2 separate regions of the Homo sapiens genome follow, and region 1 is linked to region 2. The links come from fine-mapping of genetic effects on gene expression. A gene starts in region 2. The other region holds a variant in brackets. All regions are shown on one strand. Distances are from middle to middle. Region 1 overlaps WDR82 (WD repeat domain 82). Region 2 holds the start of WDR82 (WD repeat domain 82).

Evidence for each region. PIP is the estimated chance that this variant, and not a neighbour inherited with it, causes the effect. A credible set is the group of variants that fine-mapping cannot tell apart.
Region 1: its variant is the best candidate, but not a certain one, in a credible set for the expression of WDR82 in fibroblasts (GTEx, PIP 0.82).

What each region holds. Positions count from the first base shown.
Region 1 is chr3:52,252,112-52,260,438 of GRCh38, forward strand. WDR82 (WD repeat domain 82) reads right to left here. Exons shown (of 9, transcript NM_025222.4): 5 at 8,274-8,327; 6 at 7,606-7,761; 7 at 7,086-7,155; 8 at 6,425-6,567; 9 at 2,323-5,408. The coding sequence ends at 5,379. Among named protein-coding and RNA genes, the nearest start is that of PPM1M, 11 kb to the left of the region's middle. RefSeq lists an enhancer at 1,320-1,639. The variant G/C (reference allele first, on the strand shown) is at 3,582.
Region 2 is chr3:52,274,115-52,282,441 of GRCh38, forward strand. It overlaps WDR82 (WD repeat domain 82), which reads right to left and starts at 4,535. Exons shown (of 9, transcript NM_025222.4): 1 at 4,087-4,535. The coding sequence starts at 4,247. It overlaps LOC107986086 (a long non-coding RNA gene), which reads right to left. Exons shown (of 3, transcript XR_001740699.2): 3 at 8,204-8,327. RefSeq lists enhancers at 3,262-3,894, 3,398-3,447, 3,468-3,547, 3,958-4,057, 4,527-5,158 and silencers at 4,248-4,327, 4,508-4,797.

The DNA.
Region 1 (8,327 bases), 22 kb before region 2:
CATCTCTATCAAAAATACAAAAAATTAGTAGGGCATGGTGATATATGCCTGTGGTCCCAGCTACTTGGAAGGCTGAGGTGGGAGGATCACCTGAACCCAGGAGGTGGAGGTTGCAGTGAGGGGAGATTGTGCCACTCCACTCCAGCCTGGACAACACAGTGAGACTCTGTCTCAAAACAAAACAAAACAAACAAAAAAATGGGGCCAGGCCTGGTGGCTCAGGTGTGTCATCCAGCACTTTGGGAGGCTGAGCAGGCAGATCACCTGAGGTCCGGAGTTTGAGACCAGCCTGACCAACATGTTGAAACCCTGTCTCTACTAAAAATACAAAATTAGCCAGGTGTGGTGGCACATGCCTGTAATCCCAGCTACTCGGGAGGCTGAGGCAGGAGAATCGCTTGAACCCGGGAGGCGGAGGTTGCAGTGAGCCAAGATCGCACCGTTGTACTCCAGCCTGGGCAATAAGAGCAAAACTGTCTCAAAAACAAAACAAAACAAAAACAGCCATGCTGTCAACTAGAACGTACCAAAGCTCAAGTGCTCAGGAAGTATCTATTGAATTACAAGGCAAACCACCTTCATGACCTCAGCTTTACTTGACCCTTCTCTGATTTACTCCTACTTTATAATTTAGGTGAATTCTCTCACCAGGCAACTGACAGCCCAAAATTGCAGCCAAGAAGAATATCCAACAGGTCGCAGAGCCAATGGTAAAACCTGTATAATTAACTCAACTGAGAGGCTCTCAGAACCCACCCCACCCCGGCTTTTTTTTTTTTTTTTTTGAGATGGAGCTTCACTCTTGTCGCCCAGGCTGGAGTGTAATGGTGCCATCTCAGCTCACTGCAACCTCTAGCCTCCTGGGTTCAAGTGATTCTCCTGCCTCAGCCTCCTGAACAGTTGGAATTACAGGCACACACCACCACACCCAATATTTTTAGTAGAGATGGGGTTTCATCATGTTGGCCAGCCTGGTCTCAAACTCCTGACCTCAGGTGATCCACCCACCTCGGTCTCCCAAAGTGCTGGGATTACAGGCGTGAGCCACTGCACCCAGCCTCAGACCCCCTTTCCTACCCATTAACTCTAGATTTCATTTCCTACACATTCTCCAGGGAAGACTGGAAAAACTGCATCAGATATTTCCCACTGCTATATTCCACAGTGCAGGACTTCAGGGTTGAACCTGTCCACAGCTAGGCCCTATGGTAGTCTTGCTAGGACTCCTCTAGCCAGGCAGCTTGAGTGCTGTCCTACCAGCCTGTAGGAGTGTCACTTCCTCTTTCCTCACCACAGCCTCCACTACCTCACCACTCCGCCTGAGCAAAAAAAAAAAAAAGGGTGGGCAGCATCCTGTGCCTGCTTCTCTTACCCACATCAACTGCTGAGCCAGCTCGCCCCCACAGCCTGCTTGCCTAGCTTGCTACCATGCCTGCTGTTGTTCCTCACGTCACAAGGCTGAATGAAGCCTGGGGGGTGGGTGAAGTAGGTCTTTCAGTTGCGAGCAGGACAGAGACCAGAGTGGCTGCTCTAAGGGCAGCCATGCTTACCTACTTGTTCATGTCTCCCAGCAGAGCTGAACACGGCAGCAGTCCTCCCACCAGGCCAGGAGGGGGTCTCTTCCTACGTACGTAGTGTCAGAAGAGCCTGTGCATGGCCTGTCACACACAAGCTAGGATGTTCCCTCCGCCACTGTTGCAGAGTCCCATGAGCAATGTGAAAATGTGGCAGGCCCAAGGTTTTCTTCTCTGGTCCAGAGAGGGCGAGGCAAGAGCAGGAAGCAGGTTCTACAGCTCTGAGAATGCTGAGCTAGAGCAGCAGCCTCCAGGCAAATGGGTTACCAAAGCAATTGCCTTCTGCCAGACTGGGTGCTGGGGCCTCAGAGAGACTCCAGTATTCTTGCCTTCCTGAAACCAGGGTCTAGCAGGACAAAACATATTCCAACTAGAGGTTGTCAATCTGGTGAAGGGTTGAGTAAACAGTAGAGGATGCAAGGCAGCCTGAGGTAAGTGCCAGACAGTCTCCGAAGATTCAGGCTGGCTCAGGCTTGCCTTGCCCCGTCAGTCATTGCTGGCTCTATGGCTATTACAGCCTGGGGTTGAAGGCTGGTTCTAGGGGTTCCTCCCACCAGCCCATAAATCTTAGTTACCAAGGGGCAGTCAGAGGCAGTCCCAGGGAGCCCAGCAATCCGTCTACACAGCATTACAGCAAGCTGCAGTGTGAGCCAGAACTAACAGGAGACAACCCAAGCCTCCCTCCAGCTCTGGGAACCAGGCAAACCATGCTACAGAAACTCAAATCGAAGAGGCTGCAGCCATAAAATTCTGTTTAAGACTGTAACATGGAAAAAATGTTTATACGTTAAGTACAAAAGGGACATAAAATTGTATATACAGAATAACGACTATGTAAACACACCAAAAATCTATGCACAGAAATGTCTAGGGGGAACATTTAACACCAAAAGATTAACAGTGGTAGCATTTGGGTGGCAAACTTGATTCTTTCTAAAATTCCCATATTTTCCTTAATAAGCAGTAATTATAATTACAACGGGAAATAATTTCTTTAAGTACCCAGTGCAGTGTCACTGTCAAATAAACATCAGTGGCTTTGGCCCCAATTCTTAAGGTGGCAAACGCCGCTGCCCCACTCCCCACCCATCCCCAATAGGGCTTGAGCACCTGTAGCCCTGCTGAGCACGTCTGTGCAGCCCCAGCCCTCAGCATCTCTTCCACTCGCTTCCAGCTATATCTTTTCCCTTTCCTTCTTAATTCAGGAGGCAGCTTTGCAACCACAGGGCCCAACGATAGAGACTGTGAGGTGGCATTTTTTTTTTTTTTTTTTTGAGACGGAGTTTTGCTGTTGTTGCCCAGGCCGGAGTGCAATGGCACGATCTCAACTCACCGCAACCTCCGCCTCCTGGGTTCAAGCAATTCTCCTGCCTCAGCCTCCCAAGTAGCTGAGATTATAGGCGCATGCCACCACGCCCGGCTAATTTTGTATTTTTAGTAGAGATGGGGTTTCTCCATGTTGGTCAGGCTGGTCTCAAACTCCCGACCTCCGGTGATCCGCCCGCCTCGGCCTCCCAAAGTGCTGGGATTACAGGTGTGAGCCACCGCGCCCAGCCTTGAGGTGGCATGTTTTCAAAGAACATGGTGCTCAGTTTTGGACACACAGGAACTCAAATACAATCATTTTCCTGCTGCTAAGTAATGCTTGGTGGCTGCTCTGGTTGCAGATATGTGAAGTTAGGTAGCCTTTCCTGTTAACCCATGGTTCCAAGCACTCTCTCTTAACAATCATTCCTACTGTGAATTTTCTACCCGGAAAAGCCAGGGGTGGGCAATAACAATTAAGATCATTTGGTTTCTAAAAGTTCTTCCTCTCTGGGAAAGCAGAACTATACAGTGGGTGGCATCCTGCAGATTCTAGTCTACATTTGGGAAAGGTGTACGCCTCTTGCACTTTCAGAGGAACAAGTCAAAAAGTAATTGCTTAAAAAAAAAAAGTGCTAGCAATTCACAGCCTATTCCTGCCCGCTGAACAGAAATTGTGATGCCTTGATTTACCCCCTAGCA[G/C]CTACATATTCTTGAGCAAGTCATAACCCTATTGTGCCTCAGTTTCTGGATCTGCAAGGAGTGTTGCCTGCATAAATGTTTGTTTAGGAACTTAGTAAAATGACATACTCCTCTCTCTGCTCTAAGAAGGCCATGAGCCAGCTGCAGCTCATCTCACTCAGCCTGGGCCTGACCAGAGTCCTTTCCTCTTCCAAGAGAAAGCAAGGAAAAGCAGCAAGCAAGCAGACATACCAGGTCAACAGGAGTGATCTATCATTGGCAACGAGGCCTCAAACAAACTGCAAATGCTCTGGCTTCAGCACCTTATCCCCAAATGCCACAAACCAGACATGGAAGCCATGCAAGAGTGACTATCACACACACACACAGGCACAGACAGAGTACCACCAAGCAAAAAGGGGGCTAATACTGCAGAGATGGCCCCAAAGTGCAGCTTGAGGAACACAGCAAGTCATCCCAAGACCCTCACTTAGCTGCCAAAGAAACAGCAAACACTATCAGCTTTGCTTCAGTCTTCTGAAATGAAAATATTAATAAGGAAGACTCACTAATACTTGTGGCAAACACTATTAGCAGGGATGCAGGGTGTCTCCTGGGCTGCAGGACTCCATCTGCTTCAGCTGAACTCTTGGAAACTACAGATGAGAGATATATGCATACGCACACACATATATGCGTATCTGTATGCACACAGATGTATTTAAATGAAGGTGCATACACTGTGCTAAAATACAAACAACAGAAATCAAAGGTCATATATAAAAACGCTAAATATGACATATAACACAGGCCTAGAACCAGCTCTTGGTTGGGAGCTGGGGAAAGGGGTGGTATCATCTGAAGACTATGTACACAATTTGTGGTGGGCAGGGAAGGCATCAGTGTAAACAACTCAGACTCACTTCACAATACTGGCCCACAGGTAAGTGTGATGTATCTCATGTACAAAAATAGACTCCCACCTTGCTTTTGTACAAACCAAGCTTGGTAGGCACCCAGGAGGACCGTGGGTTTGTCTTGATGACAGGGCACTGCACCAGGCTGCTGCTAAACCTTCCAGCCCTAGGAACTCACCTGCTACCCTCCCGCTACCCTCCCCTTTCCCTCCCTTTCAGGCCCTTGGGTCTTTTTCCCACCCAACACCTACAGCCCGAGGCCTGCCCAACCACCTAGCCTCACACGACTAACTGCAGAAACTAACTGCATGGCTTCCTGCAAGCAAGGTCCTTCTGTATCTGTCCCTTTCTCTGACCCCAAGATATATGAAAATGTTTCTGTAAATGTTTGGCACCTAAGAAACATGATGGTTGTGGATAATGCCACAAGTACACAGGGAGACCCAGTAACAAGACATGCAGGGTGAGGGCAAGCGGCTGAGCTGCCCAAGCATTTCAAAACCAGGACTTTGGCTTCCCATGCAGTTGGAGGGTAGAAGGGATGTGCGGAACTGATGACTTCACCGGCTCCTCAGCAGCATGTACATTCAAATTGAAGATGCTTGAGAGCCCCACTATACCAAATCGTGAGTCTGGTCACTCCTCCAGCAGAGCTTGGTGCAGTGACAGTTAGAAAAGCTGAGTTCCAATTGAGTCTGTTGCACCAAGAGTCCTTTTGAAGACGCTCATCAAAGTAATTATTTTCTTTTGAGCAGATGTACAGCACATCCATGGGAAGGCCATGTAAAAGGATGTTCTCCAGCCCAGTCAAATGATCCAATCCCACTATTATCTCAGTTCCCTCTGAGTTTCTTCCTGCTGGCCGCCCTCACTATACAGAAATAGCCAAGCAGCAACAGGGTCAGTCATCAATGGTGGGCAACCAAAAGGCCTAGAAGGAGAACATAAATCAACTTTAAAAAGCCAAGCATCTCCTCACTGCCAACGGTTCTTCACATCCCACCCCACAGCAAAAATGTGCCCAACCCCAGTGGCTCTGGTAGCCCTCTCTCCTAACCAACCAACCCCGATGCTCTAAGGAGACAGAAACACTCTTTCCTCTATGTGAAAGTAAAATGGTTCTGTTTTTCTCCAATAATCACTGTCCACCTTCCACCAAAGCAGACCCCCCGCCCCCTTTTTTTTAAAGGAAGGGAAAAAAAGGAGTGCTGCCTGGGAGGTGGGTGAATAAGTAACCTGTCCTCATTGCTAATCCACCAGGTTACCTCCAACAGGCCCCCACCTTCCTGGGCTGTAAAAAGTAAGGAACTGGATGGTTTTGCTGTATTTTTTCTAACATTTTTTTCTTGGTTAAAAAAAAAAAGCAAGGTGGCAATGTGCTCCGGGTAGGCTAGTAATGAAATGTCTCATCCCCGAATACCCAGGCAGGTTTAGGAGATCACAAGGGAAAACTGGAGCTGAGACTCACTGATCCTTTGTTCTGTTAGTATTATCTAGGAAGAGATAAGGGCCTGGAGTTAATTCTAAGTGGTGAGTTATGACCAACTGTAGAAATTTCTGGGAATTTGGCGTAAACCAACAGGAATGGAAAACTGAAACCACAAAAGGCCGGTTCAGAGTATTTTAAGGAGCAAAAAAATTGCCAAGCATAGCCCAGGTAGTTTGGACCTAAAATTAGGGTCCAGAGCAAAAACTGGCCTATGATCTCCTTGGAACTCAAAGATGATTCCTGATCACCTCTAGGAAGAATAAAAATGAAAGGCAAGACCAGCCCAGCCAGAGATCAAATAATAGGAGATGAAATAGGGAAACCACCAGTTGAGAAACATGTACTTGGATGCTTGTAATGTACCTATGTAGAACACAGCTTGCTGTGCTTGTTGAGGCACCCACCACCCCAACTGGGAAGGGTCCCTGAGTAGCAGATACCTCTTACTGTTCACATACCATGTTGGAACACGCACTGGCAAAAGTCATGAACTTGGGGTTGAATTGCAAACAGGTAATCGGGCCTGTGTGTTTACCATCCAACACAGCTACTTTTATACCGCTCTCTCCATTCCAGACATGGATCTTGCCATCCTCTGAACCTAAAGAGGATATTCACGGAAAATGTAACAGCTCAAGGCGCAATACAAAGACAACTGGAAATGAGACATGGATTGAGATCTGAGGATACGCCAAGCTTTAGGACCCATCCCTCAGGCAAAATTGAGAGGGAGGAGAGGCAGTGAAGGAAGGACACTTTGGAAATTTATCTTGACCCTAGCTATTTGTTCACAGGCATGTCACTTCCGTTCTAACTTCAGTTTTCTCATCTAAAAAAGGGGCCGAATACCATTACCCTACCAACAGGCAGCCACTAAGATGACTGAATGTAGGGTTACACCAGGACATTAGCATTACTAATAAGGTAGTGCTTGTGGAGTTTAACTCAAATTTTGGTCCAGTCAGGGCAGTTAAAAGACACTATGTCCTTGGCATAATGTGCTATACAGAAATCTAAGAACATCTATCAAATAGATAATAATGTCTCAGTTAATAATTTAAACAAAGAAATGCATAGTACCAGAGAAATAACCCCCACAGGGGATAAAAGGAAACTCACCAATCATAATAAACTGAGAGTCTGGAGTAAATGAAGCCTCCAGTGTGACAGCTTTGCTGTTGGCATAACCCTAAAACAAAACAGAGCAGTTCTTTTGTTCTTACAGAGCCATTAATAAAAACAGCTGCCTACAAACACTGACTCAGCACATGCATCACCTTCCTTTCCATGAAACCCTTTCCTTGTCATGTACTACACCACCAAGCTTCCAAATGTGGTTGCCATCGTTGACAATCCACTCCCACCCTCAACTCTGTATTCAAGGCATACTCAAGGGGGCAAGAAAACTTTATTGTTAGGAAATTATTTTATATCTAAATACCAAACTTGGGTCACTTGGTGAGAAATGAACATCTACGAAATCCAAGAGAGGTAAGTTCATGAGCAGGAAGAAAATACAAGTGCATGCCTTCATGAGTAAGTCAAGAGTAACTGTTGGTCTCCACCAACCAGCTAACATAATTCTTAGCATAGGAAGTATGAGCATGGAAACAGCCATGCTTGAAGGCTGTCAGCTCACCCCAAATGTGTGCATCACCACTCCTTTGAATGCATCAATCAGACGAATGAAGCTGCCGTTGGTGGAAATGAGGATGAGCTTGCCATCATTGCTGAATTTAAGTCCTGTCCACTCACAAGTTCGATCATACTGCATCTTAAAGGTAGCAAATGGCCCCTGCAAAAGATAAAAAACAGTAGCCCCAGGCATATTAATAATTTCTTCTGCTAGAGCCAATTCCCATCCTATTCCTTTAGATTACTTTTTGACTAAGGAAAGCAGAGAATGAGCTACTTCTCTGCCACTCTCTAATATCTACCACATTTTTCCTTTTGTAGAAAAGGCTCTTACAGGGCCGGGCGCGGTGGCTCACGCCTGTAATCCCAGCACTTTGGGAGGCCGAGGTGGGTGGATCACCAGAGGTGAGGAGTTTGAGACCAGCCTGACCAACATGGTGAAACCCATCTCTACTAAATACAAAAAATTAGCCAGGCGTGGTGGCGGACACGTGTAATCCCAGCTACTTGGGAGGCTGAGGCAGGAGAATCACTTGAACCTGGGAGGCAGAGGTTGCAGTGAGCTGAGATTACACCACTGCACTCCAGCCTGGGCAATAAGAGCAAAACTCTGTCTCAAAAACAAAACAAAACAAAAAACAGCTCAAAGATCTCAAAGATTCAAAGATTTACCTTATCAAAAGAACGAAGGTCATAAAGCTTGACCATTTCAGAGTTGACACCTGC
Region 2 (8,327 bases):
TCCTTTATACTCTTCCAAATTGAAATATCACTCAATGGGCGAACTCCATTGTAAAGAAAATTTAAATGACCAGTAAACTGGAAAATACTAAGCACACAAAATCTTGCTTTAGCCATTTTCAAACTCCCAAATTCTAACACTAGGGTCATCTAATAAAGATACTATGCCTTCGGCCGGTCACAGTAGCTAACACCTGTAATCCCAGCACTTTGGGAGGCCTAGGTGAGAGGATCGCTTGAGTTCAGGAGTTTGAGACCAGCCTGGGCAACCTGGTGAGAACTTGTCTCCACTAAAAATAAAAATAGCCAAGTAAGTTGGCGAGTGCTTGTAGGCCCAACTACTTTGGAGATTGAGGTGGGAAGATCACTTGAGCCCAGAAGATGAAGGCTTTAGTGAACTATAAGCATGCTATTGCACTCCAGCCTGAGCAACAGGGGAAGACCTTTGTCTTAACAACAAACAAACAAAAAAACAAAACAAAACAAAACAAAAAAACAGGGCCGGGTGCGGAGGCTCACATATGTAATCCCAGCACTCTGGGAGGCCGAGGAGACCGAGGTGGGCAGATCACTTGAGGTAAGATGTTGAGACCAACATGGCCAACATTGTGAAACCCCATTTCTACTAAAAATACAAAAATTAGCAGGCACACTGATGGGTGCCTGTAATCCCAGCTACTCGGGAGGCTGAGGCACGAGAATCGCTTGAATCCAGCAGCGAGGTTGCAGCAGTGAGCCAAGATTACGCCACTGCACTCCAGCCTAGGAAAGAGTGAGGCAGTCTCAAAAACAAAACAAAACAAAACAAACAAACAAACAAAAAGAAAGGCCGGGCGCAGTGGCTCATGCCTGCAATCCCAGCACTTTGGGAGGCCGAGGCGGCGGATCACCTGAGGTCGGGAATTCGAGACCAGCCTGACCAACATGGAGAAATCCCGCATCTACTAAAAATACAAAATTAGCCAGGTGTGGTGGCGCATGCCTGTAATCCCAGCTACTCAGGAGGCTGAGGCAGGAGAATCGCTTGAACTCGGGAGGCGGAGGTTGCAGTGAGCCGAGATGGAGCCACTGCACTCCAGCCTGGGCAACAAGAGCGAAAGTCCCTATCAAAAAAATAAATAAATAAAAGATACAATACCATGCCTTCCCAAGGAAATACTTCTTTTCTTCTGAGGTCGGTTTGACCTATACTAGTGACAAAATTTTTCATCATATTATTGCCTAGAATGGAAACTAAAGAGGTTGTCTAATACCCAAAGAAGTAATCTGACCAATGTCACATACCTAGTCACAGGCCAAACTAGTACCCAGTTCCCTCCTAACTACCAGGCCACTCCTTCACCACAGATAATGAAACAAGGTTACAATTAATTGATCAGAGAAAACTCAAGAGCATGCCCTGTAGTATTGTATCAGTACTAAATTTCCTAATTTGGATAACTGTGCTCTGGTTACATAAGAATGTCTTTGTGCTTAGAAAATCCACGTTGAGCCGGGCGCAGTGGCTCATGCCTGGAATCCCAGCACTTTGGGAGGCTGAGGCGGGTAGATCACGAGATCAGGAGTTCAAGACCAGCCTGACCAACATGGTGAAACCCTGCCTCTACTAAAGATACAAAAATTAGCCAGGCATGGTGGCATGCACCTGTAATCCCAGCTACTCAGGAGGCTGAGGCAGGAGAATCGCTTGAACCCAGGAGCCGGAGGTTGCAGTGAGCCAAGATCACGCCACTGCACTCCAGCCTGGGCGACTGAGCGAGACTCCATCTCAAAAAAGAAAGAAAATCCATGTTGAAGTGTTTAGGGATAAAGGGGCTTGATACCTCCAACTCTAAAGGTGGGGGGAGGCACACAGTACATATAAATATTTACCTACAGTCATGAAGCAAATGCAGAAAATGTAACCAGTTATTGAATCATATGGGAGTTCTTTGAAACACTGTAACTTTGTTAGTTTCTAATTATGTAAAAATGCTACGAGTAAATAAACTGCCTTATGTCACAAAACTAGCATTTTACTTTTAACAAGACAGGATTTGGCCAGGCACAGCAGCTCATGCCTATAATCCTAGCACTTTGGAAGGCCAAGGCGGGTGGATCACTTGAGGTCAGGAGTTCAAGACCAGTCTGGTCAACATGGTGAAACCCCATCTCTACTAAAAATACAAAAGTTAGGGTATGGTGGCAGGCGCCTGTAATCCCAGCTATTTGTGAGGGTGAGGCAGGAGAATCGCTTGAACCCGGGAGGCAGAGGTTGCAGTGAGCCAAGATCGCGCCACTACACTCCAGCCTGGGCGACGGAGAGAGACTCCGTCCCCCACCCGAAAAAAAAAAACAAAAAAAAGAAAGACAGGACTTCATGTCAAGGTCATCCTTCCCAAATCAAAATTACGCCAAATTTGGGGACAAACTGCAAAGAAATGCTATAACAACCTTCATTTCCTTTAAATGAGGATATACATCTCCACCCTCAGGTTCTGGGAAGAGGTTCTAATCTGTGCATAAGCACTATACATTTCATGCAAGCCAGCTTCAAATTACTCCTCCAGGACCCCACAATGCTGACCCTACTACCACACCTTTAAATGTTACTTCGTCTTCTAAACTGATTCAAGTGACCAGACCAGGACAGAAATCCATCTACTCAATGAGTAACACTGACTCAAATAACTATTTGTCCAGCTAACAATTCCCTCTTCCTTAAGACCACCACTGCAGACCACTCTGCCACAAACTGCAGGCAGATCCAGAGCCGGTTACATAATACTTTCTCACAGCCCCAGTGGGGAAAAAAACTGGGGGGATACCATTATAGCTCAGTCCAAACTAGCATTACTTCAGATAATCAAATTCACAAATGAAGAGATATGTTCCAAAAGAAGGACACCAGTCTAAAAAAAAAAAAAGGAAAAAGGAACAGCTGGAGAAGGTGGAGAAAAACCCAAGATCTCAAATAATAATAATAATAATAATAATAATAATAATAATATCTGTTACTAGGTGACAAAATCAAGTCTGAAAAAACCAGGGTCCACCGAATTAAACCAAACATCAGCAAGCCTTCTTGGGGAAGGTGGCTAAGGGTAAAACGAATTTAATCTAAACTAGTTTTTGGCTCCAAGGAGCTGCAAGTCCACAGGCGTGCGGTGAGGAGGGCTGACAAGGACCCCCAGGGAAAAAGGCAAAGTGCTGTGCTTAGATTTTGCGAAAAGATGCAGGTATGGTGGGTCTCCAGATGACTTGTGGCAACATAAAAGTTTCATGATCAGAATTGGAATTCAAAGTGGACCAAAAAGTGTAATAGAAAAAAAAAAGTATGAAAGGAAACCTGAAATTGTTCTACGATGCTTGCTTTGTTTTAACGGAAGCTCACATTCAGGTCAGGATGGGACGACCAAGTTCGTTTGTGTGTGGCAAAAAGGAAGTTTTAGATGTTGCTGAAAAGTTCACTTATGAACGTGGGCACCAAGTCTGAATGAGTAAGAGAAAGGCTAGGAGCAGGAAGAAAAAGCAAGGGGGCTCAAAGGGGCACAACAAATAAATCCTGACAGCTAAGAAGTGCAACCCACGCGGTCTGACGGCAGAAAGGCCGCGGGAAGCTGAGGGGCAGGGGATGGGCGGAGTGCCAGGGCGGAATCGAGGTCACAGTGGAGAGAGCACAAGAGAGAGCTGACGCTGCCGAAGGAGGCAGAAAAGCAGCCCCTGCAGTCCTGCGTCGAGGCCGGAGCAGACCAGCACCTTTGACAGCCTGAGGAGCTGAAAACGCTACCTGGTGGGCCCAGGGTGGGCGGACCGGGCGTTTAAAGGTCAAGGTCAAGGTGGGGTTTGGCAAGTGATGCATAGCGCTCAAAGGAGACCGAAGACATACAAATAATATTATAAAATTATGACTATCGTTATCTTTTTTTTTTAAGAAGAAAAAAATAAAAGGTCTCCTGGACGGCTGCGGGGTGGAGGCGGCCCTGGCAGGAACGCGTGCAAAATAGGCTGGGGGCTGAAGTCGGGACGGAGGGCAGGCCGAGGGACCTGTGCTGGGCCACCGGAGGGAGGCACTGAGACTCGGGCCCAGGGCCTCCGCCGCACTCACTTGCCCTCCTGGCAGTCATAGAGCACGATGGAGTCGTCGTCGCTACTCGAGATGACCGTCTCGCCGTTGGGGCTGAAATCGAAGCAGTTAATCTTGTCCGAGTTTTCGCGGAACACCTTAGCGACGCGGAAGCTCCGCAACACGCTGTCGGTCAGCTTCATGGCGGCGGCTGGGGAAGGCAGCGGCGGCGCAGGGCCGGGGCGGGGCCCGGCGGCGAGCGGGCGGGCTGCCGAGGGGCCAACCCAGGCGGGGCGGGCGCCGCGCCGGCGGCTAGCGGGAAGTCGGCCAACAGTTGGGCCGCCTCCTCCTCTTCTTCCTGCTTGGTCGAGGGTCTTCTGCCTGGACTGTGGAGCCTCGCCGACCGTTCGTCCTCACAGCCACCTCACGGACAACCGGCGCGTCGCCGGCTCATTGTGTCCGCCATTTTGGGGCGACAGGCAGAAGCTGAGGGCGAGGAGCCTCAGCCGCGGCGCACGCCGGGAAAGGGGGCGGGGCGGGAACGGCGGAGCAAGGCGGGGAGGCGGGGTGGTGACGTCAGCGCGGCCGCGGCGGAGTGTAGTGGCGGGGCGGGCTGCTGGCAGGGAGCGGCCGAGACGTGCAGGGCCTTCCCGGGGGATCGGAAGGTTGCGGATGCCTTGGGAGCCGGGGGCCCTTGCGCGGGATTGCAACCCCCGCGAAGACTCTGGCGCCTCCTGCAGGCGTCCCGATCGCAGGCTGCGTGGGAGGGGGTACTGCAGGGTCGGGTATGCTGCTGGAGGCCGGTTTTGGGGGTGACTCAGGTGAGCCGCTCGCAGGCAAGCTTGACCGCTAGTCCACCGCAGCGTCCGCTTAGACAGCTTCGACCTCTTTACTTTTTTTTTTTTTTTTGGAGATGGAGTCTCTCGCTCAGGCGCGCGCCACCACGCCCAGCTAATTTTGTATTTTTGGTAGAGACGGGGGTTCACCATGTTGGCCAGGCTGGTCTCGAACTCCTGACCTCACCCGCACCCGGCCTCGTTTTCTTAATCGAGGTAGACTTTAGGTACAGTAAAAATCAGCCTTTTTAGGCCGGGCGCGGTGGCTCACGCCTTTAAACCCACCACTTTGGGAGGCCGAGGCGGGATGATCGCTTGAGCTCAGGAGTTGAGACCAGCCTGGCCAACATGACAAAACCCCACCTCTACTAAAATACAAAAAATTAGCCGGGCATGATGGCGCGGCTGAGGCACGAGAATTGAGAAAGGCGGAGGCTGCAGTGCGCCGAAATCGTGCCACTGCATTCCAGGCTGGGCGACAGAGCAGACGGTTTCCCCCCAAAAATTAGCCTTTTTAGTGGCTAGTTTTATGTTCTGACACCCATACACAGTCATGCAGTCACCACCACATTCAAGATTTGGAAGAGTTGCACTATCCTGTTTGTAGTCAACAGGATTATTTTAAAGGTTCTATCATATAAGTGATTATTTGCCTTAAAAGAAAGTTTATCTCTAACAAAGGAAAGCAGTATTTGAACAGAAAATAGGAACCAAGCTTCCTAACCTTAACTTTCTGGGCAAGGGGTTAAACTCAATGCCAACCTATGTGGCTTCACAGATCTGTATCTTGTGTGAAGCTCCTCAAAAGGTTAATTGCCTGGGGTTTCCAACAATGAAGATGGGGATTATTTATTTTTGCTTTCTTTAGCTAAAGAGAAACAAAAACGAGGAAAGGCTGTGAGACATTTCAGTCGCTATTAGGAAGGTTATTATCCAGAGACCTGTGCAATGGTAAAAAACAAAATGGAAACCCTGGGACAGTTGGGGTCTTTCTAGAAAGAACTAGAGGCTGTATCCCAACCCCCTGGGTAAAAGGAGAGCCAGGATCCTTATACATAAAGAGAAGTTGTTCTCTAAGGGAAGAGGCAAGTTCCTGGCTAAGTCTGGGGTATAATTGCCTCCTGACAAAGAGCAGAGCTTCTGGCTACAATTTGTTCTGGGGTCTGGAAAAAGCCGGTTTGAGTGAAACCTGAATAGATGGCAACTTTCCAAACTGCACACAATGGAAGAAAAACCCTCCACGTCCCAGATCACTTGCTCTGCTTCCCTGTAATTCCTGTGCCTTTATTTCAGAAGCTAGAAAGTCTGATACAGCGTCTGCTTCGAATAGTTTAGAAGGCAACAAGGACAGATCGAGTACCATGTTCTAGAACTGTCGGGAAGTGAACACACCCAGTAAGATGATGCCATATTTTGGTCCATGTTAATCTACAAAAATAACCACAGAAACAGCTGTAATCTACTGAATGTTGCCAGCCAAAATAAATCTTTGCAGGGTATTTTTCAAGTATTGTACTTCCTATACCTTTTCCAGATTTCACCGTTAAGACCAAACCTTCCTCCCAAGACTTGACTTTCTGCATTATTTTTGGAATGCAGTCTTTTTTTTTTTCCCCCATTTTTAAGAGGGTCTTCAAATCCTCATCCTGTTTCGCATTCTTACTGTTTCCAATTCCTAGCCTGGCTCCCTGCCCTATTATAGTGGGGCTCTCCTGGCTTCCAGCCCAACAGTATGGTTGCCTTAAAGGATGGACTTTAGGCCAGGTGCGGTGGCACTTTGGGAGGCCGAGGTGGGTAGATCACAAGGTCGGGAGTTCAAAACCAGCCTGGCCAAAATGGTGAAACCCTGTCTCTATTAAAAATACAAAAATTAGCTGGGCACAGTGGCGGGCACCTGTAATCCCAGCTACTTGGGAGGCTGAGGCAGGAGAATCGCTTGAATCCGGGAGGCAGAGGTTGTAGTGAGCCGAGATCACACCACTGCACTGGGCATTAGAGCAAGACTCCGTCTCAAAAAAAAAAAAAAAATGGACTTTAAAAAGTGACACAGAAAGCCGGCTCCAGTGGATGGGTGGATGGAGAGAAAGCTGCAGTCAAGAGTGAATCAGATGGGCTTTAAAAGAGCATCAGACTTAATTTTTTATGTTTCCTTTTATTTGTAGTCATTCTTTTACTTGTCACATATTCATTGCAAAAAAACTAAAAAATACAAATAATAAAAACAGCATCCAGAGATAGCCACTGTTACAATCTTTTATTATAGTGAAATATATATAACACGAAATTTACCATTTTGATGTAGAACCTTTCCGATTTTTTCATATACATATATATATATATATATATTTTTTTTTTTTTTTTTTTTTTTTTTTTCCTGCTCTGTCACCCAGACTGGAGTGCAGTGGCGTGCTCTCAGCTCACTGTAACCTCCATGTCCTGGGTTCAAGTGATTCTCCTGCCTCAGCCTCCTATAGATGCCCGCCACCACGCCCAGCTAATTTTGTATTTTTAGTACAGACGAGGTTTTATCATGTTGGCCTGGCTGGTCTTGAACTGCTGACCTCAGGTGATCTGCCTGCCTCACCATCCCAAAGTGCTGGGATTACAGGCATGAGCCACCACACCCAGCCAATCCCTGAAATATATTTTTATTGGGTTCATAATATATTGTTTGTAAGTTTACCCATACTATGAACATATTCCAGGTCAATAAATATCGATACAATCATTTTGAATGGCTACAAACTATTCTATTATATGGCTGTAAAGTAATTTTGCTTCCCATTTTGTCCAGAGCCCAGCCAGAGCTCAGTATGGATTAATTGAATAAATGAATTTATCCAAAGGATTCCAGATACTTGATTGGCCCACTTATTAAATTTTTCTATTTCATGCTGCACAATTGGAATGGAAACTGTCCTAAACAATGTGTCCTCTTTCCAAAACACAGAGCTCCTTATGAATTCTAATTCTTTGAGATAAATTTCTGAGCTCCAGTGCCCAGCAGCAGGGCTTCCCTAGAGATTGACTAACGTCTTACTCAACCCTTGGAATAACTAGAATCAGGTGACTCTCTTCTTTGGGACAGTTGCATGTGTGTAAGTGTGACAGTGTGTGTGTGTATCAGTGCTTACACAGCCCTCGGAATAACTAGAATCAGGTGACTCTCTTCTTTGGGACAGTTGAGTGTGTGTGTGTGTGAGCTTAATTGCCAAAGAGGAAACGCAGAACACTAGAACACAAAATGCCTGGTGAGGTGTCTGAGCCCCAGCACCAGGAAGTGGTCGCCTCACAGGTTGGCAAAAAATTTACTGACAACAGTATAGGTTTGAAAAAGGAAAATTTCTTAGAAAGAAAGAACGCTGCAGAAGAGTGCAGCGGGGCACCCCAGCGAGAGGACTGAGGGCCTTGGTGGATTTTCCTTAGGTGCATTTATGGACCTTCAGG